Linked DNA regions of Homo sapiens. The main gene of each other region encodes a partner of the protein of the gene in region 2 in a complex. Each region holds a gene or a part of one and is shown on either strand. Other genes may lie near its edges. A codon is read from its position in the direction of its gene.

The links. The genes of interacting proteins can lie anywhere in the genome.
Region 1: the proteins of USPL1 (region 2) and SUMO3 are in contact, whole or in part, in a crystal structure (PDB 7ZJU), measured with the Homo sapiens proteins. Residues at the interface, in NP_005791.3 of Homo sapiens: Ala234, Cys236, Trp237, Pro321, Gln322, Leu323, Arg324, Met330, Glu331, Ser332, Val334, Phe335, Leu339, Tyr368, Thr378, Thr380, His393, Phe394, Gly395, Pro396, Asn398, Arg407, His421, Val423, Tyr451, Asn454, Asn455, His456, Phe457, His493; in NP_008867.2 of Homo sapiens: Gln24, Asp25, Gly26, Ser27, Val28, Arg58, Arg60, Gly63, Gln64, Pro65, Ile66, Asn67, Asp70, Leu75, Phe86, Gln87, Gln89, Thr90, Gly91.
Region 3: the proteins of USPL1 (region 2) and SUMO2 are in contact, whole or in part, in a crystal structure (PDB 7ZJV), measured with the Homo sapiens proteins. Residues at the interface, in NP_005791.3 of Homo sapiens: Ala234, Cys236, Trp237, Gln322, Leu323, Arg324, Met330, Glu331, Ser332, Val334, Phe335, Leu339, Thr378, Thr380, His393, Gly395, Pro396, Asn398, Arg407, His421, Phe422, Val423, Glu424, Tyr451, Asn454, Asn455, His456, Phe457, His493; in NP_008868.3 of Homo sapiens: Gln25 (codon at 1,191), Asp26 (codon at 1,188), Gly27 (codon at 1,185), Ser28 (codon at 1,182), Val29 (codon at 1,179), Arg59, Arg61, Gly64, Gln65, Pro66, Ile67, Asn68, Asp71, Gln75, Leu76, Phe87, Gln88, Gln90, Thr91, Gly92.

The regions. Positions count from the first base shown.
Region 1 is NC_000021.9:44,815,050-44,822,738, reverse strand, and holds the start of SUMO3 (small ubiquitin-related modifier 3 isoform 1 precursor), read left to right. Parts: upstream 1-4,676; 5' UTR 4,677-4,770; coding exon 4,771-4,791; intron 4,792-7,689. UniProt on the Homo sapiens protein: Ubiquitin-like protein which can be covalently attached to target lysines either as a monomer or as a lysine-linked polymer. Does not seem to be involved in protein degradation and may function as an antagonist of ubiquitin in the degradation process.
Region 2 is NC_000013.11:30,612,937-30,620,927, forward strand, and holds the start of USPL1 (SUMO-specific isopeptidase USPL1), read left to right. Parts: upstream 1-4,983; 5' UTR 4,984-5,120; exon of another isoform or gene 5,121-6,804; intron 6,805-7,991. UniProt on the Homo sapiens protein: SUMO-specific isopeptidase involved in protein desumoylation. Specifically binds SUMO proteins with a higher affinity for SUMO2 and SUMO3 which it cleaves more efficiently. Also able to process full-length SUMO proteins to their mature forms.
Region 3 is NC_000017.11:75,179,947-75,186,797, forward strand, and holds the start of SUMO2 (small ubiquitin-related modifier 2 isoform a precursor), read right to left. Parts: upstream 3,014-6,851; 5' UTR 2,889-3,013; coding exon 2,868-2,888; intron 1,243-2,867; coding exon 1,111-1,242; intron 1-1,110. UniProt on the Homo sapiens protein: Ubiquitin-like protein that can be covalently attached to proteins as a monomer or as a lysine-linked polymer.

The sequences.
Region 1 (7,689 bases), on a different chromosome or scaffold from region 2:
AAACTCCTGACCTCCGGTGATCCACCCACCTCCGCCTCCCAAAGTGCTGGGATTACACTGCACCCAGCCTGAATATTTTCTTCTGACCTATCTTTCAGTTCATTAATCATCTCTTTCACTGTGTCTAATCTGTTTCAAACCCATCCATTGAATTTATAACTTCAGCTATTGTTTTTTTAATTTCCATTAAATTGTTTTTTATATACCCCACTTCTCTGCTGAACATTTCCATCTCATAATCTATTTTCTTGAACATATTAATCACATTACCTTAAAGTGTATGATAATGTCAATATCCTGTTGACATGATAATCCCATGGAATTATTCCTACTTTATTTATATATATATTTTTTGGTTTTGGATCATTTGTCTCCTGGTTTTCTTTGTAAACTTTAAATCTGGATATTGTATATGGAAATATTTTAGTTAATTTGAGGCCCTGGATGATGCTATTTACCTCTGCATATTTCCTTTTGCTTTGGGCTGGCTGTGGGAAAGAGAGCAGATCAACTTAGTCTGGGAGTCAGCCCTTTGGAAGCTTGGTTTCAGACTTTGAGAGGGACGATCTACTCACCCCTCAGCCTTCCTCCCCTATTGCAGCCCTCAGTGCTCTCAGCTGAAGGTCTGGGTCACTCATCAGAGTCTCCCTATCTTGTGGGCTGTCACCAATTATTGTCTCCCCAACCCTAGGAGATGCAAAAGCTCTGCTCAGTGTGTCAACTTCTTTCCACTGCATATGTGAGACTGAATTGTGTCCCCCCAGCATTCACATGTTGAAGCCCTGACCTCCAATGTGATTTCATTTGGAGACAGAACCTTTAAAGAGGTGATTAAGGTTAACTGAGGTGATAAGGGTGGGGCCCTAATCCCAGAGGACTGGTGTCTTTGCAAAAGGAGGAAGATACACCAGAGATCTCTCCCTCTCTGCAGACACAGCAGAAAGGCCATTGTGAGAACACGCCAAGTTGGCTGCATACAAGTTGGGAGGAGAGGCTTGACCGGACACCAACCCTGATGGCTCACTGATTTTGGGCTTCCAGTCTCTAGAACTGTCTGGAGGCTGGGAAATAACTATCAATGGTTTAAGCTGCCCAGTCTGTATTATTTATTTATTTTTTTTTGAGACAGAGTTTCACTCTTGTTGCCCAGGCTGCAGTGCAATGGTGCTATCTTGGCTCACCACAACCTCCGCCTCCCAGGTTCAAGCGATTCTCCTGCCTCAGCCTCCCGAGTAGCTGGGATTACAGGCATGCGCCACCATGCCCGGCTGATTTTGTATTTTTAGTAGAGATGGGGTTCCTCCATGTTGTTCAGGCTGGTCTCAAACTCCTGACCTCAGGTGATCTGCCTGGCTCAGCCTCTCAAAGTGCTGGGATTACCGGCGTGAGCCACCGCGTCCGGCCCCCGGTCTGTATGTTTTTATGGAAGTCTAGGCTAACACAGGATACTAATCACCAAGTGCCTCAAAGGAAAAAAACTCTTCCCTTTTCTTTTTGAGGTGGGGGAAGGTCTTTGCCCCTCACAGAAAGACTTCTTTTGGTAGCTGATAGCCTTAAACAGATTTAAAGAATATTTTATACTGATTTTTGGGCTATTTTTGTTGGGTTTGTCTGAGGCAACCAGTCCTCCCTAACTGTAAGTAGAAACGTCTCTGAACGCCTCAGGGATTTCTCCTCACATGCCAAGCATCTGTGTCAGTCTTCTCACTCAGCCATTGGATACTCAGGGGCCCTTTCCATTTATGGAGTCAAATATTTCTTTAGTTCAGAGAAATTTCTTATTTTTACTTTTTCTTTGAGATAGGGTCTTGCCCTGTTGCCCAGGCTGGAGTGCAGTGGTGCGACCTTGGCTCACTGCAGCTTCTGCCTCCTGAGTTCAAGCTGATTCTCCAGCCTCAGGCTTCCAAGGAGCCAGAATTACAGGCACACACAACCACACTCAGCTAATTCTTGTATTTTTAGTAGAGATGGGGTTTCACCATGTTGCTCAGGCTGGTCTCAAACTCCTGACCTCAGGTGATCCGCCTGCCTCAGCCTCCCAAAGTGCTGGGATTACAAGCGTGAGCCACCGTGCCTGGCCTCAGAGATATTTTCTCCAATTCTGTCTTTGATTTTGTCCTGGTTTCCTTTTTTCCACCTTCTCCTGCAGCTCCTGTCAGGTGGACGTAGCCCTTCCTGTACTGATGCCCGGTGTCTCGGCCTTCCAACCTTCCCTCTCTCTTTTCTTTTTTTTTGAAATGGAGTCTCACCCTGTTGCCCAGGCTGGAGTGCAGCGGCACGATCTTAGCTCACTGCAACCTCTGCCTCCTGGGTTTAAGCGATTCTCCTGCCTCAGCCTCCCAAGCAGCTGGGATTACAGGCATGCGCCACCAGGCCCGGCTAATTTTTTTGTGGAGACGGGGTTTCACCATGTTGACCAGGCTGGTCTCGAACTCCTGACCTTGTAATCCACCAGCCTCAGCATCCCAAAGTGCTGGGATTACAGGCATGAGCCACCCAGCCCAGCCCTGACCTTTCCTCTCTTAACTTCTCCATCATGGGAGAGTCCTGTGACTTTGTCTCGCAGTTCTTTGCGTCCTCAGCCAGGACCCCTCTCCTAGTCACATGTGGGTCGAGCTTTCATGTCAGCAATGCTGTTACTCATTTGCCAGTTCCCTGCCTTCTCATGAGTCTTCTTGTTGGGACCATCGCCAGGTGTGGCGACCCTCCGGAGGGGCTCTGGCCATTTGGGTTCTTTACCCTGTGCTCGTGGTAGGCCACGGTTTTTCCTGAGCTCTGGTTCCTCCGTCCATTCGATCCCCTTTGGCTGTGTCCTTCAGAAACCTCTTGGCGTTCGGTCCACCAGCGGTGTCCTTTGTGTCCCCACAGCTGCGACAGAGCCTTTTTGCATCTTTGCTGTCACATGAAGGATTCGGGGCAGGTCACAGTGTGGGAGACAGACACAGCATGAATTGAATTCAGACCACCATTGTCTTATAGCCTGGCTTTTTAAAACCTAATGTCATCTGAGCCTCTTTTTCCCTTATCCATGACTGTAGTCACGCATCACTTCGTGACACAGCAACTGGCGTAATTTCGAGCGGTAACACATTTGGGTTCTGTGTCTCATGATTTCTAAGCTGCGTGTTTCTCACTTCCACAACACTGAAGCGGGCTGCCGTCATCCACAGCCTGCCGGAGTTTAGTGTGTCTGTGCTACCTACGGTCGTGTTGTTTTATGATTAACGGTGTCTTGGAGTCGATAACTCTCTGAACCCTGCCTGCCCTAGGGCACTTCCAGGGCCAGCAATCTGTGGGCTCTGAGGCGCCACGTCCCCTCGGAAGGGGCTGGTTGCGGAGCCCCCTCCCAGGACCGTCTGAGCTGGCCACCCACCTCCACATCCTCTGCTGAGGCCCTGGGCTCCAGGTTCCAGAAGGAAGGGACCACACCTTATGACCTGCCTGGGACTGGGGCTGACTCTCAGACCCTCTCCCCGAAAGACTTCAGCAGCCTTCCCCCTCCTAAGTGGGGGCTCTAGCCAAGAAAGTGAATTTTTGAGTAGAAGACGGTTTGTGAAGTTATGGTCCATGAAGACTTGTCTCCATGGCTTTGCGACGTTGCTCAGTTGGCTGAGCCTTTCCCAGGCAGGACAGAAACGGCTCAGACGCTTAGGTTCAAATCCAGGCCCTGCCATTTCCCAGCTGAGCCTGAAGTGCGGCCTCCCCCGCCTTCGGCCGGGCTCACCATCAGATGAGACCTCCGCCACGCCCCGGCTGGCACCACCCGGGCACTCCTGAGGGACGCAGGGGTGTCCGCCCTCAGGTCCGTTCCATCCGAGGCCCTGGGATCACAGACATGGAGGCCGGGGCGGGCCAGGCACCCCAGGAATGGCGCCCGCAAGTCCGGGGAGGCCGTCCTGCCGGCCCAGCGCGTTTCCCGCGTCCACGAGGTCCCCGTTCCGCCGGCACTGGCGGCGTCCAGCCTGGGTTTGCCCGCGCTCGCCGACGTGGCGGCCTGGCCAAGCTCGGCGCCGCTCACCAGCGCTGACCTGGGGGTGGTTTGACCTCCCAGTGCCTCAGTTTCTTCACAGGTAAAACGGGTCTTCTTGAGGACGGGTGTGGAGGGCCCGGGGCAGCCCCGTAGGAGCGTTGGCCAAAGGAGCCCGGCCTGGGGCTGACAGGAAACCGCGGCGGCAGGGAGGCGGGTGGCGCCCCCAATCGTCTAGGGTGCTGGCCCGATTCGCGCGGCCCCCGCGGACGGGACCCCGCGGGCCGCCTTCTCCGCTCTGTCCGCGGCTCCTGAGAGGGAACGTCACCCCCAGCGTCCTCCCTCCTCCGCCCCAGGTCCCTGCGGCCATGGGCGGCGGCCCCGGCCTCACTTCCCGGCGCCCCAGGAACGCGGCCCCCAGGAAAGGAGTCGGGGCCCGGGCGACGCGGGGAGGCGGGCAAGGGTCCCCAGGGCCCGGGCTCCCCGTAAACGCTCCTGGCCCGCGCCCCACAGCGCCCTAGGGCTTCCGCGCCCGACGGGGTCGCGCGGGACCCGCCCCGTGACGCATCTCCAACCGCCCAGAGCCGCGGCCCGGCCTGCGCGCGCCCGACGCCCCGGGGAGCGCGCCTCGTGAACGCGCGCAGCCACGTGACCCCCGTGCCGGCCAACGGGTGCGCCGGGATTTGGGGGATAAAGCGCGGCCCCGCGCACAGTTGCGGCGGGAGAGCGGCGGGGCCGAGAGCGTGACTCGCCCGCTCCGCGCTGCTTCCCCCGCGCCGCCTCCCCGCGCCGCTCGCGCAGCCATGTCCGAGGAGAAGCCCAAGGTAAGCGCGGCGACCCCGCCTGCACGCGCGTCTATCGCGGGCGTCCCGCCCCCAGCCCGGCTCCGCCCCCACCCCGACTCCGCCCCGCGTCCCGCCCCTGACAGGCTCCGCCCCTCCCCGCCCTCTAGAGCCCCGCCCCTAAGTGGGCCCGCCCAAGGTGCGCCCCCTCTGCCCCCGCGAAGCGCGCTGTGCCGCGAGCTCCGCCCCCTCCGGGCCTGGCCACGCCTCCGCTCCACGCCCGTCTCCTCCCCAGCTGGGAAGGCGCGCGCCCAGCGCCTCCTTGAGCGCCCGGTGTCGGGCCCCGCGCTGCTGCTCCTGCAGAGCGCGGCGCCCTCGGATCCCGCCCCAGCAGTGTCCCCGAAGCGTCTTTGCGTGCTCCTCTCCTGAGTCATTGCTGGTTGGGGTCGCCCTCTCCCCCGGCATCGCCCTGGGTGCGGGATCCTGTGTCGAGTGCACGGAGTCGGCTCGGGAACAAGCGTCTGGGGTTACCCCCAAGGGGCGCGCTCTGAGGGGCCTGGCCCCTGTGAGCAGCACTGCCGTCCTTCCAGGGCGCCCATCGCGACCCCGGTATTCACCCACTTCTCCGCATCGTGTCCCGGCCATCGCGTCCCCCAGTGTGCGCCCACCCCTCTCCTTCGTGTCTCCCCAATCGTGCCCTCAGTGTGCACCTACTCCCACCCATCGCGCCCCGTGTGCACCCACCGCCTCCATCGCGTCCCCCGGTGTGCGCCCACCCCTCCCCATCGCGCCCCCCGGTGTACGCCCACGCCTCCCCATCACGCCCCCCATGGTGTGTACCCACTCCTCCCCATCATGCCACCTGGTGTGCGCCCACCCGTCCCCATCATCGCGTCCCTGGTGTGCGCCCACCCCTCCCTATTGCGTCGCCCTCTCCATCACACCCCCAGTGTGTGCTCACCCCTCCCCGTCGCGTCCCCCAGTGTGCGCCCACCCCTATCCATCGCGTCCCCCTTTCCATCACACCCCCAGTGTGCGTCCACCCCTCCCCATCACCCCCTCCACGATGTGCGCCCACCCCTCCCCATCACGCCCCCTATAGTGTGTGCCCACCCCTCCCTATCACGCCCCACGGTGTGCGCCCACTTCTCTGCATTGCGCCTCCCCCACCATGCGCGCCCACCCCTCCTTATCCAGCCTTGGGTGGGCTTTAGTCTCCCCCATTGCCATGCTGGGGTGTGCCTCCCTCCAGTCTCAGTCCTGGGGTATGCACCCTGCATTCAGGTGCACTGGCCATTCCTTCTCGGGAGGGTCTGTAGTCGCATTCTCCAGTGTTCATAAAAAGAGAACCTTTCCGAAGCCCTTGGTGTGCACTGTCGGCCTCTATGTTACATCCCAGTGGAAGATGACTAGAGCTGAAGGCTCTGTAAAGAGGCTGTCTCTGATACTGGCCTGGTCCTGGAGGTGACCACCCTCCCTTTACAGATGAGGGTGGAGGCTCAGTGCCAGACACTGGCGGGAAGTGGGATGGAACCGTCAGGAACCATGGTCGCGGCCTCTATGGAAGTCTGCACTCTGCTTGCTGTGGTCAGACTCCAGGGAAACCTGCCCTATCCAGATGGCATTTGGGGTGACCTTTGCTTTTTACATTTTGACTCCAGTGAAGTCAAAGTTCTCCCACTCTGGGGTTGTTTGAATATTTAAATACTTGTTAAAACTAGGTCAAATATAAATGTCCTTTATGTTTTTGTAGGTGGCTTCCTCTTAATGAAGAGTAAATGTAATAAAATACATATGATATTAATTTTCTCAGCAGTATTTACACTTAGCTCTGCCATGTGGTCAATCTCAGGCTCCAGTTCCGTTGAAAACACTTGTTTAATTCCAGAATGACTGAGTGGCTGCCACCTCACAGGCCCCGCTTCTGGTGGGTCCCCTCTGAGCCCATGTGGGAGCAGCTCTGCCCTCTGGGGCTCTGACGAAGGGGAAGAGGTGGACTCTGGGGCCCGGTGGTGCTGGAAAGAAGAGCTTTTAGGTCAGGCAGGAGAATGGTTCTGACTTCCCTGGATAGCTGAGGTGGAGGATTGACTGTAGCAAACTGAGGCCCATGTTTTTAGGGCTTCACTTTTTAACTCACGAGTTCACTTGCTTATTAGGAATTCACCAGGGGTCTGGGACAGATCGTCATTCTGTTTGGAGCAGAGGCACTGTGGCCGGCCCTGCCCTGCCCCAGCCTCTCCCGGGGCTGCAGCCATTCCCCCCGGGGCTGCAGCCATTACCCTGTGGGGGACGTCTGGGCCCTGCATCTGTGCCTTTGAACACACTCATACCTTCCTTCCCTAAAGAAGCCAGTGCATCCTCATGCTTGGGGAAGTGAAGGGGGCTCATGCAGGGGTCCCCACTTCCATCCTGCCTGGAGCTGTTTGCATGCTCTTCCTTCCTAGGCCAGTTGTCTCTGTGCTGGAGGCCACATTCGGGATGGGGAGATGGGGGTGTGCCAGCTCACCACTCAGGCTGCCGCCAAGCCACTGGCATCCCGGGAGTGGGCAGGGGTGTCTGGCCCAAGACTGGAGTCGGGGGGTGAGTGCCGCCCCAGGACACGCACCTTCAGGCTCGCAGCTGGAGCCCCTCACTGCCAAGGCCCCTTGCAGGCCACTCTAGCTCCCTTGACAGAGCACCATGCCTCCCCAGGGTCTCCCCAGGGTGCATACCCCAGGGAAGCAAGCATGGGTGCAGTCCCTGGGTTCACCCTCAGGCGAGCCTTCTACATCCCACTCCCTGTATTTAGGCATCGCTGGGACAGTTGTCCCTCTCCCAGCCAGGGAAGGAAAGGAGAAGTGGAGAGAACAGGCGTGTGATGTACAGTGCTTCCTGAGGGCAGCAGCTCAGCATGGGGTGAAAGGGTACCAGGACGCCCCAGACTTGACTTTCAGAGTGAGC
Region 2 (7,991 bases):
AGATCTGCTAGAGCTACATGTCCAATTACGAGAATATACTGGAAAAAGCCCTGGATTAGAAATGAGAGGATGTAGGTTTTAGTACCAGGTCAGCCACCTTGTTAATGCAAATTTGAGTAAATTGTTACTTCTTTTAGGCCTTGTTTTTGCTGTTTTGTTTTTCTGACAGTATGGTCTCTGTGGTCCAGGCTGGAGTGCAGAGGCACAATATCAGGTCCCTGCAGTCTCTACCTCCCAGGATCAAGCCATTTTCATGCCTCATCCTCCTGAGTAGCTGGGATTACAGGCATGTGCCACCACACCCTCGAACTCCTGACCTCAAGTGATCTGCTTGCCTCAGCCTCCCAAAGTGCTGGGATTAGAGGTGTGAGCCACTGTGCCTAGCCTTACACATTGTTTTCTTACTGGTAAAGTGGGAATATCTAGAAGTTGCATGCTACATAAATTCAACCATATATTATTGGCAAAAAATTTTAAAGAAAAACATCAGCTTAAGAGTACTAATTGAGTACATGCCTTGGAATGAGCATGAGCTGGAAAGAACAAACCTGTTGTTACATCACTCATTGCTGTTTTCATATGCTGCTCATTGTAAATCTTGCTCAGTGGCATGATTTTAGTGTTTAAAGATTTATTTGTTTGTTTGTTTAGGACAAAGTCTCTACACATAATCTACTTGCTTCATATATACATACTTATGCATATTATGTATGTACATACATGCTCTCAGGGCTCACATGAAAAAACAGCCATTCAGGTGATGTGATTTATCTCATATGCTTACTTTAGAGTCAACAGGGTGTTGACTCCACTATACAATACTGGCATGGAGAACACATAAGTCAAAGTAGACAGGACCCAGCCGTACCATTGGCTAGGGCACAAATATATTCACATATGTGGAGAATGATGTACGTAGAAAGGTCTTCATTGCACAATGCTCTTTAATAAAGATCTGGAAAAAAAAAACACCTAAATGTTCAAAAGGATAGGGTAGATGAAATAATGGTACATTATAAAATGGAAGATTATGCAGCCATAAAAATAAGGAAATACCTTAAATAATAACAGAACAACTTTTAAGGTAAGTGAACAAATAAGGTACATAATCACTATGCATAGTATGTACCATTTACATAGAAAAAGGGAAGAAAAATAAAATATATATAGTAATTTATTTGTTCTTACATGTGTAAAATTTTTCTGAAAAATATACCAGAAACTGGTAGCACTGGTTGCTTCCTAGGCAGAAAATGACTGAGTATCCTTTTGTACCTTTTGAATTTTGAACCACGTGAATGAATGTGTTACCTATGAACAAAATGACAAGTTTAGATCAGCAAGACAGCAGTTTGAGATGAAATGGGATTACACCCTTAGTAGGAAAAACTTTTTAAAGCAGGTGGTACTTCTAAGAGCAAATACCTGCACATGGAATGTTGAAACTATAAGGAACTCTCCTTAAGAGATCCATCTATTCCAAACTTCTCATTTTATAGATCTGTAAACTGAGACCTTAAAAATTCAGTGACTTGCATAAGGTCACACAGCAGAAGAGATGGGATTAGATGCTAGATATTCCAATATCAAGTTTAGACTATTAAAAATTCAGTGACTTGTGTAAGGTCACACAGCAGAAGAGATGGGATTAGATGTCAGATATTCCAGTATCAACTTTAGACTATTATCACACCATCTTCTCATTTTCTGGGGGCAAAACAGAACCAAGTAAGTTTGGGCTACATTACGAGTTGTCATGTTTTTGTTTTTGTTTTTTTGAGATGGAGTCTTGCTCTGTCGCTCAGGCTGGAGTGCAGTGGTGTAATCTCAGCTCATTGCAATCTCTGACCCCCGGGGTTCAAGCAATTCTCCCTGCCTTAGCCTCCCGAGTAGCTGGGTTTACAGGCGCCTCCCACCGCGCCCGGTTAATTTTTGTATTTTTTTTTTTTTTTTTTAGTAGAGACGGGGTTTCACCATCTTGGCCAGGCTGGTCTTGAACTCCTGACCTCGTGATCCACCCACCTCAGCCTCCCAAAGTGCTGGGATTACAGGTGTGAGCCACCACGCCCGGCCGAGTTGTCATGTTTTATCTAAATTTTAGAGTCTAATGTATAAATTAACCTTAAGCCCTGAAACTACTAATTTCTTGTTTGGATCACTATACGGCTACACTTAAAAATATGCTGTGCATACCTCTATCATTGCATGTATACAATATGATAGATGCATGATATGACAGACACACAATATGATACACGTATTTTTTTCTATCCTAACACATCTGAATTTACTGAAATAACTAAAATGTCTTAAGTTACTTTTTTAAATATACACATGCATAGCACAAGCGTGTTGCCAAAAATATGAATACAGGTTTACAATTCCTTAACTAAAACCCAAGGGTTGGATGTGTTTTAGAAATAAGAATTTCATACAATTTTTAAGTGTTACAGGGTATATAAACCATTATATAACACATACCAGGGGCCAAGGGCAGCACCCCATAATCAAACATATTAATATAGTTTCAGCAAAACACATGGGATAAAGACTATATACAGCTTCTCAATAGTTCAGGTCATATTTTGCTACCAAATGAATTTTGTTGCCAAGCTTAAGAAGTTTTTGGTTTTCACCGCTTTCTGAATGTTAGATTGAGATGTGGGATTACAGACTGTACTCATAGAGTGCTTCTAGAAAGCAGTCAGTCACTTCAACTCTCATTTTTTTTTTATGAGACTAAAAAAGAAATCATAGCAAGTAGCTTTTATATCCCAGGTTTGGGCCAAAGACTTGTATTGTGGTTAAGGAATCTAACTTAGTAGAAGGTGCACGAGCTGACATCGTGAGTGGCTAAAATGAGAGAAAAAAAGAGAAAATCCTAATCATACAGAAGCACTGAACTACTGCAGCTGTTCGTTAGTTATTAATTTAATAAAAGCTTCCTCCCTTTAAATCATGTGAGTTTATAACTGGAAATAGGTCAATAAAATTTCTGTCCCACACTGCTGACAAGCGATGGACGCAATTAGCTTTAATCCCACTGGAAGGTACTGCACTCTCTCTGGGACCAGGATATGTAGAAAAAAGCATTTCAAATATATAGGAATAACCAGAAATGTATACAGTATTCTCAACTTGGGACCGTTACTCTATAATATAAACGAAAGGGGTTTTCTAGTCAATCTCTGCTGATCTCCTGTACCAAAGTTCTTCCCTTTATAAGTCTTGTACTACCTTTTACAAGAGGAAAAAGCTCTAGAGCGAAAACACAGAACACACTAAAATCCCTTCCTTTCTCTTTACAACTCAAGCCCCGCCTCCATTTTGTTTCTGTTACTAATTTTTCTTCTGAAAAAATACCAAATTTACACTGAAAGACTAAAATTCAACTTTGCAGACAACGTTTTAAAAAATACAATTCAGTTTGGTGATGTTGTTTTGCAGTCTTACAATTTTAGCTACATTTTAACTGAACCAATTGTTTTGTTCAATTTATGAGTTAATACTCAGCAAGTTTGTTTTTTACAAATAGTGTATTCCATTCTAAAAATGGAAGTAGCAGTGGTGAACAAGAAAACAACCCTCTGAGTTTTGTCTATTTCAGGAGGAAGTACTACTTTCTCCAATTTTAATCACAATTCATAAAAAAGAAAAACCTAACTAGCTAGATCTTAAATATACAAATACATTAACAATCTAGTAAAGCAACAGAAAAAGGTAAACAAACTAACCAGCCTATTTTTGTCTGGAGAAACCCCAACAAACTGCTGGATTCCTTGGCCATTTGCATTCAGAAGTACCAAAAACTAAAATCCTTTTTACTAAATAATTTCTTCTACACGAGACTTGTTTCCTCCACACCACCCTATCCAAATTGTCAGCATTATTCCAGAATATAATCATTTAGTTTGAGACCACTAAAAAACCCCGCAGTCCAAAATACCAATTGTGGTTTTTCTGTAAAGAAATGGTCAGAAACTACAAATTGTTATCCTAGGACACAGAACCAATCGACCAAAAGGACTTCTGGAATATGCTGCCCCCAAGATTTAGAATGCACAGGCAGAAATAGCATACGCGGTCACGATGTCCCTTAAGCCACATGACCTTCCTACGAAAGCAAAGGCTTAAACTTATCAAATGAGAACTCCCCCTTTCTCTGAAGTTAAAACAAGGCAGGGCAGCTGGAATTAGAGCAGCAGGGACAGATCGGCTGTTGACTAGTCAGAACGGGTCGTGGAATGCAAAGTCCCTGCGCTTTCGCTGCTCCCCTTACCGTGAGAAGATCTGGGAGGGAGGAAAGGAGGAGAAACACCCCAGAATCCTGGTAGAAAAGCCCCTGGCCTCGAAGATGGGCTCTAGGGAGACAGGGAGGGGCAGCTCCGTGTGTGATGACCCTTTGTGAACATGCACTCTGTGGCAGCTTCAGCTCCACCGAGGCTTTGGGAGAGCGGACTACGGATGCCCGGCGCGGCCCAGCTGTGAAGGCCGCGCCGGCGGAGAGGGTCCATGGCACCCCCGCCGGCTTCGGAAGCCCTTCCCTCTCCCACCTCCGCGGGTCACCCCAGGAACCAGCGGCTCCCGACCACGCTCGCGCGGACCACGGAACAGCGACGCGCAAGCAGGTCTCTTTCGTCAGCGTAATCCCTCCGCAGAAAGCCGCGCACTAGTTTTAATCACGCCCCACCCCCTGGCCGCTGGCGCCACCTCCGCCACTCGGGCGCTTTCCAGCAGCTTCCAGAAACGTCGCCTCCCCAAACCCAGCCACTCACACATGGCGGGCTCAGCAGCCACCGGCCCCGCCCCTCCTCGTCGCCGCAGTCGCAACTGCGTCTGCGGCCACAGGGCGGACAGCCACGCCTCTGCGGAGGGCGACCGGAAGTGCTCACGTCTTCACCTTCCCCGCCACGCCACCGTCCTTTCAGGCCCAGCGTGCAGCAGGAAGGAGGACTCTTTTGCCGCGGACTCAAGCCGGAAGCCGCCTTCCTAGTGGAGACGCGAGTGGGGGAGGAGCAGTCCGAGGGGAACGTGGGTTGAACGTTGCAACTAGGGTGGAGATCAAGCTGGAACAGGAGTTCCGATCGACCCGGTACCAAGAAGGGGAGTGCCCGCGGCAGGTAAGGGAGAAGAGGGAGGGGTTTCTTTCCGCTCTCGAAATTGGGAAAAGAGACAGAGCTGGGATGACCTATGGGGTAGTCGGCGCGCTGAAAGGATGGGCTGGGCTGGGACGGGGTTCAAGTGGGAAAGGTTGATGATTAAGGTATAGAGTTGGACTTACAGATCCGTTTGGGCGCAGAGAGGTGAACGCTGAAGAGAAACCAGAGTTTGTTTTCGTTTTCCAAGGAGCGTGGAGATGGGCAGGGTTAACGGACCCTGCGCCTCCTTCGGCTTCTTAGTTTGGGTGTTGAAACTCACCTCCTTTGGTCCTGTTCGTCTCTGATTCAAGACAGTTGGGTTTGGTACCTGACAGGGCTGGGTGCAGAAAGCTGACCCTGTTCCTCGGCTTCCAGGTCGGTTGTGGCCTCGCTTTTGACAGTTCACGTGCCGAGCCTACTCGCTCTCGGAGGGCGAGCTCAAATGGGTGGGTTTAAGGCCCCCTCTTCGAACAGCTGTTTCCCTGGGTTTCTCCATTTTGCACACAGGAGTGTGAATTAAGTTTAATTGAATACTTTTTGCGATTCCCAGGGCCACCTTGACACGTTCATTGTGCTATCTAACTGGGTTCATGCTGGGCTAATAATTCACATTAAGGCTTCTGGAGTATAAGTGGTTCACAGAAGTATGAAAAGGGGATGTTAGAAGAAAGATGCTGGGGGTGAAGTAGAGTTGAGGAAGACAGAACTGGAAAGCTAGGTTGGTTTCACAGTACAATGAGCTTTAGGTCATAATACTACCTTTAGGTTATATTGGGCTGTTTGGACGGAGTTTGCTGTAATCAGGCTAGAGTAAATAGAGAATTTTAAACTAAGCATTGACAGGCTCAGACTTGTAGAGGCATCATTTTGACAGTGATATGGAAGGGAAAGAGGTAGAGATTTGAGACCTTTCCAAAGAACTGTCCACAGAATTTGGTGACTTACTGTGCGAAGAGGGAAATAAAGAATAGGGAACAACTCAAGACTTTCTAGTCTGTGTGTTTGGAAGGATGGAGACGCCCACATTTAAGTGAGATATGGGAAGGAGGAGCAGATTGTTTTTGAAGGGAGGAAGAGCAGTTACTTAGGGTCAAATTAAGTTGTAAAATCCCCCCCGGGATTTTGTATGTAAGTCAAAGTGAATTGTATTTGGAAGAAGAACTGGGGAGCCCACCTCTGGTATTTTTTTTATGTCCCTCATATGGACAAATAAACCTCTGGTATTAAATGAATTTTCTTTTGGGGGATTCTATATATTCGGGATTTCAACCACCAACCTATCTGGTTTTTCCCGCTGAAATGTTGGGTGATGGAATCAGGAGAGCAGATTTGGAGACTCTTTATATTTTATAATTGAGAGAGACAAAGAGAAAACCGTTTGATTTGAAAAAGTTTTCTAGGTTCCCTCAGGTAGATGGAAATTTTCATCAAAAACAGTTTATTCAAGGTACATAGCCTACTAGTTTCCCATTTGAGAGTACCGCAGAATGATACGACGTGTACTGCTTCTCTACGCAGAATGAAGTATAAAATTAGCACCAAATAGTAACTTTAATTTGTCAGGTGCTAAACTTTTTACATGCTTTATCTCATTTAATTCTTAGAAGAAACTAATTTTACAAGTAAGTGTCTGGACCAACATCTGCAGGTACAAAGCCTGAAAAGCGTAAGTTTGACTCCTACATAGTTCTCTTTTGTAAGTAGATTATAAATAGAACCAGCCAAAGGTAATAAGTTGTCTGTGCCTAAAAAGAAAGAAAAAAGTTAGCATCAGTAGTTCTCACCAGAAGGGGTGATTTTGCTTACCAGGGGACATTTGGCAAGTCAGGAAACTTTTGGCTGTTGGATCTAGAGGGTAAAGGTCAGTGACGCTGCTAAACATCGTCAGTGCATAGAACAGCCTTCACAAACAATTATTTGGTCAAAGATATTTGTAGTGCTGCAGTTGAGAAATTTCTGTCTTATGGTTATTTCTTCAGGAATAGGAAATTAAGATTCGCCGATACTTTCTTTAAAAAGCAGTTTTATTTTTGAAATTATTCCTTGGCTTGAAAGGTTTGTGAAGTTTATATAGCCGAACCAGAATAGCGTAATTAGATTTTAAAGTGAATTGTGAGCCATCGATTCCCAGGAGATGGGTGTCATAGAATCATGGATTCTTGGATTTGGGAAAGACTTATGCCTAGAATTATTTTACAACATTTCTGCTAAGTGGTAATTCTCCTCTGCCCTAAAGGTCTCCTGTATTTGATTTTCCTATCATTGTGAACCCACAATTAAAATGCTCTTAATTATTTTTTGCTTACACTGAGCTCCGGTCTCTTGTAATTTTTACTCTGTTAAATGTGGTTCTGCACCATAGGACTGCACTCAAAACAAGCTTGCCACATATGTAATTTGTACTAGGACAGTGTTTATATTTTTGTTCAGATAACAAAATAAGTTAAATGTGGTGTAAATTAGATCATTTACAAATAATAATTTGTTAGCAGCTTTTAATAAGTAGTATTTTTCCCAACTGGTGAAGTATTAATGTTGGTAGTTGAAAACAATAGGAATGTATGGAATATATGGTTCACTGGTTCTTTTGTTCCTGTCAAATAGTGGCACAATGGATCTGGGGTTTTTCTCAGTATAATGCTGGCATATTTGTTTCAAATTGTACATAGACTCTAAAAAGTTAGGCTTTCAAATTCTGGTCAATATAGTTTGCTTTAAATAGTAGCTGCCTCTACTACAAGTTTTATTTAATTTGTTGACAAATGAGTCTGCTATGAAAACCGGTCCTGTTGCCAGTCACTACCCTCTGTTCACAAATTTGCTGGGTTTATAAATATAGGTATCATTTTCACT
Region 3 (6,851 bases), on a different chromosome or scaffold from region 2:
AAGGAAGTTTTTATCTTCACTGATCTTTCAAGTATAAACTCAAACTCAATTTCCCAACTTACATAGGTTTAAGCCTTATTCTATTTTGAGCCTATTTAGAACAATCTGAAGGGGCCAGGCACAGTGGCCCATGCTTGTAATCCCAGCACTCTGAGAGGCCAAGGTGGGCGGATCACTTGAGGTCAGGAGTTGAGGTCAGGTCTACTAAAAATACAAAATTAGCCGGGCGTGGTGGCGCACGCCTGAAATCCCAGGTACTCAGGAGGCTGAGGCATAAGAATAGCCTCAACTCAGGAGGCAGAGGTTGCAGTGAGCCAAGATTGCACCACTGCACTCCAGCCTGGGCAACAGAGCAAGACTCCATCAAAAACAAAAACAAAAATAAAACACAATTTACAAGGTAGATAAGTTCTAGCTTAAAAGAAATAGAGTGAGACTCCCAGCTTAAAAAAAAAAAAAAAAAAAAAAAAAAAAACGACTTCTTGGTTTGGCGCGGTGGCTCATGCTTGTAATCCCAGCACTTTGGAAGGCCGAGGCGGGCGGATCACCTGAGGTCAGGAGTTTGGAACCAGCCTAGCCAATACGGTGAAACCCCATCTCTACTAAAAATACAAAAAAAAAATTGGCCAGGCCTGGTAGTGGGCACCTGTAATCCCAGATACTCAGGAGACTGAGGCAGGAAAATCGCTTGAAGTGGAGGTTGCAGTGAGCTGAGCTCAGGCCACTGTACTTCAGCTTGGGCAACAAGAATGAAACTCCATCTCAAAAAAATAAAATAAAATAATAAAAGACTTATAAGTAATTTTACCAAGTTCACTCTTATTTTCTTATAAACATAAAATTACATTTCCTTGGTAAAAAAAAATTATTGTAAATATAATTTGATGGATTTCTGGCACAGGACTGGAACCACATATAATACTAACCAAATCATCCTAAGGGTTTTCACGAGCTATCAATATACCAAGTGCACGACAAAACTGACGTGCCAAGTGCATATTCATCCCATCAAAAAGTCACTGTAATGTGCTAGTCTAGTTTTTGTTCCCATGAAAATAAGATTTTTAAAAATAGTTTTATTCAGTGGAAGTACACATATGAATTCCTCACCTGTCGTTCACAATAGGCTTTCATTAGTTTACTAAGTGGTGTATGCCTCTTAATCTTAAACTGCACCACAGAACCATCCTGCCCCGCCACCTTCAAATTAATATGATCGTTGTTCTCAGTCTTGACTCCTTCCTGTTAAAAGAAAAATAAAAGTATAATTTGGGAAATGTGATCAACGAACACGTTTTATAAAGCAGCAGCAGCCCTAGTTGCTTCAAAAATCAACAGGTTTCTCATACTGTATGCTAAAACGGCATACTGCTGTTTTCAGCTGCTGAAATCAATGTGAAAGCGGAAAAATCCTGCAGTAACAGTATTAGATAGCTGTCAGATACGGAAAAGCCTACATGCAATACTATCAGTAGCAACAATATGTTTAAAGTTGGGTCCTATTCAGTGTATTGCAACGTTCTCTTGAAGTTAAACTTCCTAAAATGACATATATCACTCCCAAAATACTTTACCCCCCAAAAAAGTTAAAAATAGAGTCCCTTCTCTTTTCTAAGCACTTTAAGTACAACTGCAAGAAACAAAACAATAAATCTACAGCCTGCCATTCAAAACTCATTACCGTTGTCATTAAAAAGTTACCAAACTCAGTTTAATAACCTAAATCCAATCTCCATTAAAGGAAACACACAAACAAAAAAAACAATCGAAGAATATCCCGATTCCCCCCGGAACAGCGGTAATACTCAGTCAGGACCACAGTTAACGTTCTCCTCTATTAGCAGCTTCATTTTTATTTTCGGTTAAGAGCACTTATTCTCCCCTCCCCCCCTTTGTTGTCATGGGTCAAATACACAGTTTTATCCTGATTTGTTTCTTGTAGATTTCGACCCAACCTAAAGTTGTCCAAAATCGAGTGCAGAAGCAATTCTGTAGCCCTAAAACGCTCCAGAAAGTAAAGGCGCGGGAGGCGGGGGGTGCCACCAAACTAAAAGCAGCAAGTCCCGTGTGCCCCGATGATGGGTGTCCCCAAGTCCTCCCGGGAAGTCTCCGGGTGCCTCAAAAGCCGCGTTCAAAAGTTAAGCCGCACAAAGTCTCTCTGCTCGTACCTGTGCCTCCAACTTCATGAAACCACATGGTGTTCGCGGATTAGGGGTTCGTTGGCACCCAGGGAAAAGCCGCTGCCCCTCCCCCTTCGGGCCCCTGAGGCTATTAAAGTGGGAAATACTCCACGGGAATCCCCCTACCCCCAGGCCCAGGACGGCGGCCCGCGGGCATCCAGGTTCCTGCCCGTCCGCAGCCCATTGATTCGCCCCGAACCCTCGCCCCGCCGCCGCGGCCCCAGGCAGGGGTCCCCAGATGCCCGCGGTTCCTACCCGAGAGGTGAAGCCCGAGCCCAGAGGACTCCTCGCCGCCTCGGAGACTGCAACACCCGACGCGGGGTCGACAGAAGGTGGAGACCCCGCGCGCCCTAACGCCCCTCCTCACGCGCGCCGGCCGGCTGGGCCAAGAATCCCCGTTCGGGGCTGGTGGGTCCGCGGGCGTCCGCTTTCTGCCCGCCCAACTCGCGCCCGGCGCGCACTCGGAGGCCGCCGGGGGCGGGAGAGAGCGGCGGGGCCTCCTTCGGCGCGGGAGGGAGGAAGAGAGGGAGGGAGGAAAATGGCGCGGAGCGCCCGGGCCTGAGCCGCGGCCGGCCCCGTGGGGGGCCCGGGAAAGCGCTGGGAGCCAGCGGCGGGCTCTGGCCGGACCCCGGCCCGCGCCATGACCCCCACCGCGCGGCGAGGCGAAGGGGCCGGCGGCGAGCTCACCTTGGGCTTTTCGTCGGCCATGGCGAGCGCCGGAGTCTCCTCAGCTGCCGCTTCACAAAAGAGGTACCAGGTCCGCACCAAACGAGCACACAAGCAGCACCAGGAGCGGCAGAAGAAGGAGGCGGCAGCGGTGGACGAGGGGAGAGGGTGCGCGCACGTCGTGCGCTCCCTCCCCCCACCCTGCGTGCGCGAGCACGAGTAGCCGAAGCCTCCCATTGGCTGGCGCCTCGCGGGAGCGCGCAACGCTTACATAACCACCCCCACCCCCCGTCCCACGCCACCGCGTCCTGGGCCAGGCGCCCGCCCGGCCGGCGGGAAGAGGCGCGGACACGCGCACCCGGCCCGCCGCGGGGGCGCGCCTGGCTCTGGGCGGGGCTGTATTGTCCTCCTTCGTGGTGGAGCATAATCAAAATGGCTTCCAGCTGGTCCTCGGTGGGAACGATGAGGCTCGAGGCTTTAGACGTAAGCCATAGGCCAGGGAAGGCAGACTTACTAGAGGAGGAAGGGGATTCCTAAATCAAAGCCCCAGCATGAGGTTCTGGAAAAATCTCTCTCATTCAGTGGACCAGCAGCCCTCCCATGGTTACTTCCTCTCAGTCAATCTCAACCTGCTTCCCACCGGACTCTTGCCTAAAATGCAGTGTCTTCTTCTTCTTCTTCTTCTTCTTTTTTTTGAGACGGAGTCTCGCTCAGTCGCCCAGGCTGGAGTGCAGTGGCACGATCTCGGCTCACAGCAACCTCTGCCTCCCGGGTTCAAGTGATTCTCCTGCCTCAGCCTCCCGAGTAGCTGAGACTACAGGTACCCGCCACAACGCCCGGCTAATTTTTCGTAGAGACGGGGTTTCACCGTGTTAGCCAGGATGGTCTCGATCTCCTGACCTCGTGATCCGCCCGCCTCGGCCTCCCAAAGTGCTGGGATTACAGGCGTGAGCCACCGCGCCCGGCCTACAGTGTCTTCTTCTGTCCTGCTGGTAACCCTAGACTTTGACTAGCTACGGGAAAATATTCATGTATTCATTCAACGAGATCCTTACTCATCGCCTGTCTTCCAAGAGGAAACAGTATCCATAAGCGAGAACTACCCAACAATCAAGCTTCCAGCCAATTTAATCCTTTCCTCGTTGCATCCAGTTAAAACATACACATGCGTCCCTCCTGTCTGAAGAACAATCCGATGTGTGTGCACTGGATTCCATCTCGCTTCTTCCCCCGGGGCTTTATTATTTCCTTTTGTCCCTGAATTTTCTTCCTCTCCTCCGTTAGTATAGAAAAAAAAAAAAAAGCTCCCAATTCTATGAAGTTACCATCCTATCTCTCTCCATTCTTGGCCAAACAGCTCGAAAAAATGTCCCCGCCAGCTGTCTCCAACCCCTCCCCTCCCACTCACTCCTCAACCCACTGCAATCTGGTGCTGTCCCCAAAGTTCCACTAAAACTGCTCTCCACAAGGTCACCGCAGACTTCTTTGCTGAATCCAGTATGCTTCTCAGTTTGTCACTCCTCTTGAACTTTGCAGGAGGTAGGTTTTCCTCTCATCTCTAGCCTGTCCTTTGTTCTCTCTGCAATTTTTTTTCTTACTCACTCCTTCCCTTAACTGTTCCTTAGGGTTTTCTTCAAGATCCTTTTATCACTCCATTCCCTCTCCGAGGATGATTTCACCGATTTTCATTACCATCTCTTTGCTAATGATCCTCAAATCCATTATTTCTAGTCCACGTCTTTCTTCTGAGTTTCCAGTTGATTTCTGAACATCTCCACTTGGATATCCCAGAGGCACCTCAGACCCAGCAACTCTCAACTAAAACTCCTCACTTTACCTTCCACATGGGTCCTTCTTCCTGACCTGTCACTCTTAAACTGAGTGACACACCACTACAACAGCTGCCCCAAGCTGGAAAGGCCAGCAACATTCCTGACTTCTTCTCCTTCACACACTCCTCATCCAATCAATCTTGGCCAAATCTTGTCTATTCCACCTTCTTACCAAATCTAATTTCTTTGGCCTCTGGATGGAGCTGCATTTGCTGGCCTTCTGTAGGTTCTCTTTGGGGAGGAAGAGGCTTAAGACCTTAGATGTGTGATAGGCCAAAGCAGGAAGACCATCTAGTTCAGATCAACACTCTCAAAAGAGGCCGGGCATGGTGGCTCATGCCTGTAATCCCAGCACTTTGGGAGGCCGAGGTGGGAGGATCACCTGAGGTCAGGAGTTCGAGATCAGCCTGACCAACATGGAGAAACCCTGTCTCTACTGAAAATACAAAATTAGCTGGGTGTGGTGGCGCATGCCTGTAATCCCAGCTACTCGGGAGGCTGAGGCGGAAGAATCGCTTGAACCCGGGAGGAGGAGGTTGTGGTGAGCTGAGATCTCACCATTGCACTCCAGCCTGGGCAACAAGAGCGAAACTCCATTAAAAAAAAAAAAAAAAAAAAACACTCTCAAGAGATACTGCAATATCAGCCGGGCACGGTGGCTCATGCCTGTAATCCCAACACTTTGGGAGGCCGAGGCGGGCAAATCACCTGAGGTCAGGAGTTTGAGACCAGACTAGCCAACATGGTGAAACCCTCTGGTGGCTCACGCCTGTAATCCCAGCACTTTGGGAGGCCGAGGCGGATGGATTGCCTGAGGTCAGGAGTTTGAGACCAGCCTGGCTAACATGGTGAAACCCTCTGGTGGCTCACGCCTGTAATCCCAGCACTTTGGGAGGCCAAGGCAGATGGATTGCCTGAGGTCAGGAGTTTGAGACTAGCCTGGCTAACATGGTGAAACCCAGTGTCTCTACTAAAAATACAAAAATTAGCCAGGCATGGTGGCAGGCGCCTGTATTCCCAGCTACTCAGGGGGCTGAGGCAGGAGAATCGCTTGAACCCAGTAAGTAGAAGTTGCAGTGAGCCAAGATCACACCACTCACTGCACTCTAGCCTGGGCAACAGAGCAAGACTTCGTCTCAAAAAAAAAAACAAAAAAACAAAAAAACACAAAGATACTGCAATATGGAAATACCCTCCTAACTCATCTGTTTTTTTTTGTTGTTGTTGTTGTTTGTTTTGTTTTAGACGGAGTCTCGCTCTGTCGCCCAGGCTGGAGTGGCACGATCTCGGCTCACTGCAACTTCTGCCCCCCGGGTTCAAGCGATTCTTCTGCCTCAGCCTCCTGAGTAGCTGGAACTACAGGCACATGCCACCACGCCCGGCTAATTTTTTGTATTTCTAGTAGAGATGGGGTTTCACCGTGTTAGCCAGGATGGTCTTGATCTCCTGACCTCGTGATGTGCCCGTCTCGGCCCCCCAAAGTGCTGGGATTACAGGCGTGAGCCACCACGCCCGGCTGTTTATTTGTTTGTTTGTTTTTTTCAGACAGAATTTTGCTCTTGTGGCCCAGGCTGGAGTGCAATGGCAAGATCTCAGCTCACTGCAAACTCCGCCTGCCAGGTTCAAGCGATTCTCCTGCCTCAGCCTCCTGAGTAGCTGAGATTACAGGCATGCCATGCACCACCGTGCCTGGCTAATTTTGTATTTTTAATAGAGACGGGGTTTCTCCATGTTGGTCACACTGGTCTCGAACTCCCGACTTCAGGTGATCTGCCCACTTTGGCCTCCCAAAGTGCTGGGATTACAGACGTGAGCCACCGCGCCCAGCCTAACCCATCTGTTTTAAAGTACCTCCAGGCCGGGTGCGGTGGCTCACGCCTGTAATCCCAGCACTTTGGGAGGCCGAGGCGGGCAGATCACGAGGTCAGGAGATCGAGACCACCCTGGCTAACACAGTGAAACCCCATCTCTACTAAAAATACAAAAAATTAGCCGGACGTGGTGGCGGGTGCCTGTAGTCCCAGCTACTCAGGAGGTTGAGGCAGGAGAATGGCATGAACCTGGGAGGCGGAGCTTGCAGTGAGCCAAGATCACGCCACTGCACTCCAGTCTGGGCGACAGAGCGAGACTCCGTCTCAAAAAAAAATAAATAGTACCTCCATTATTCATGGAT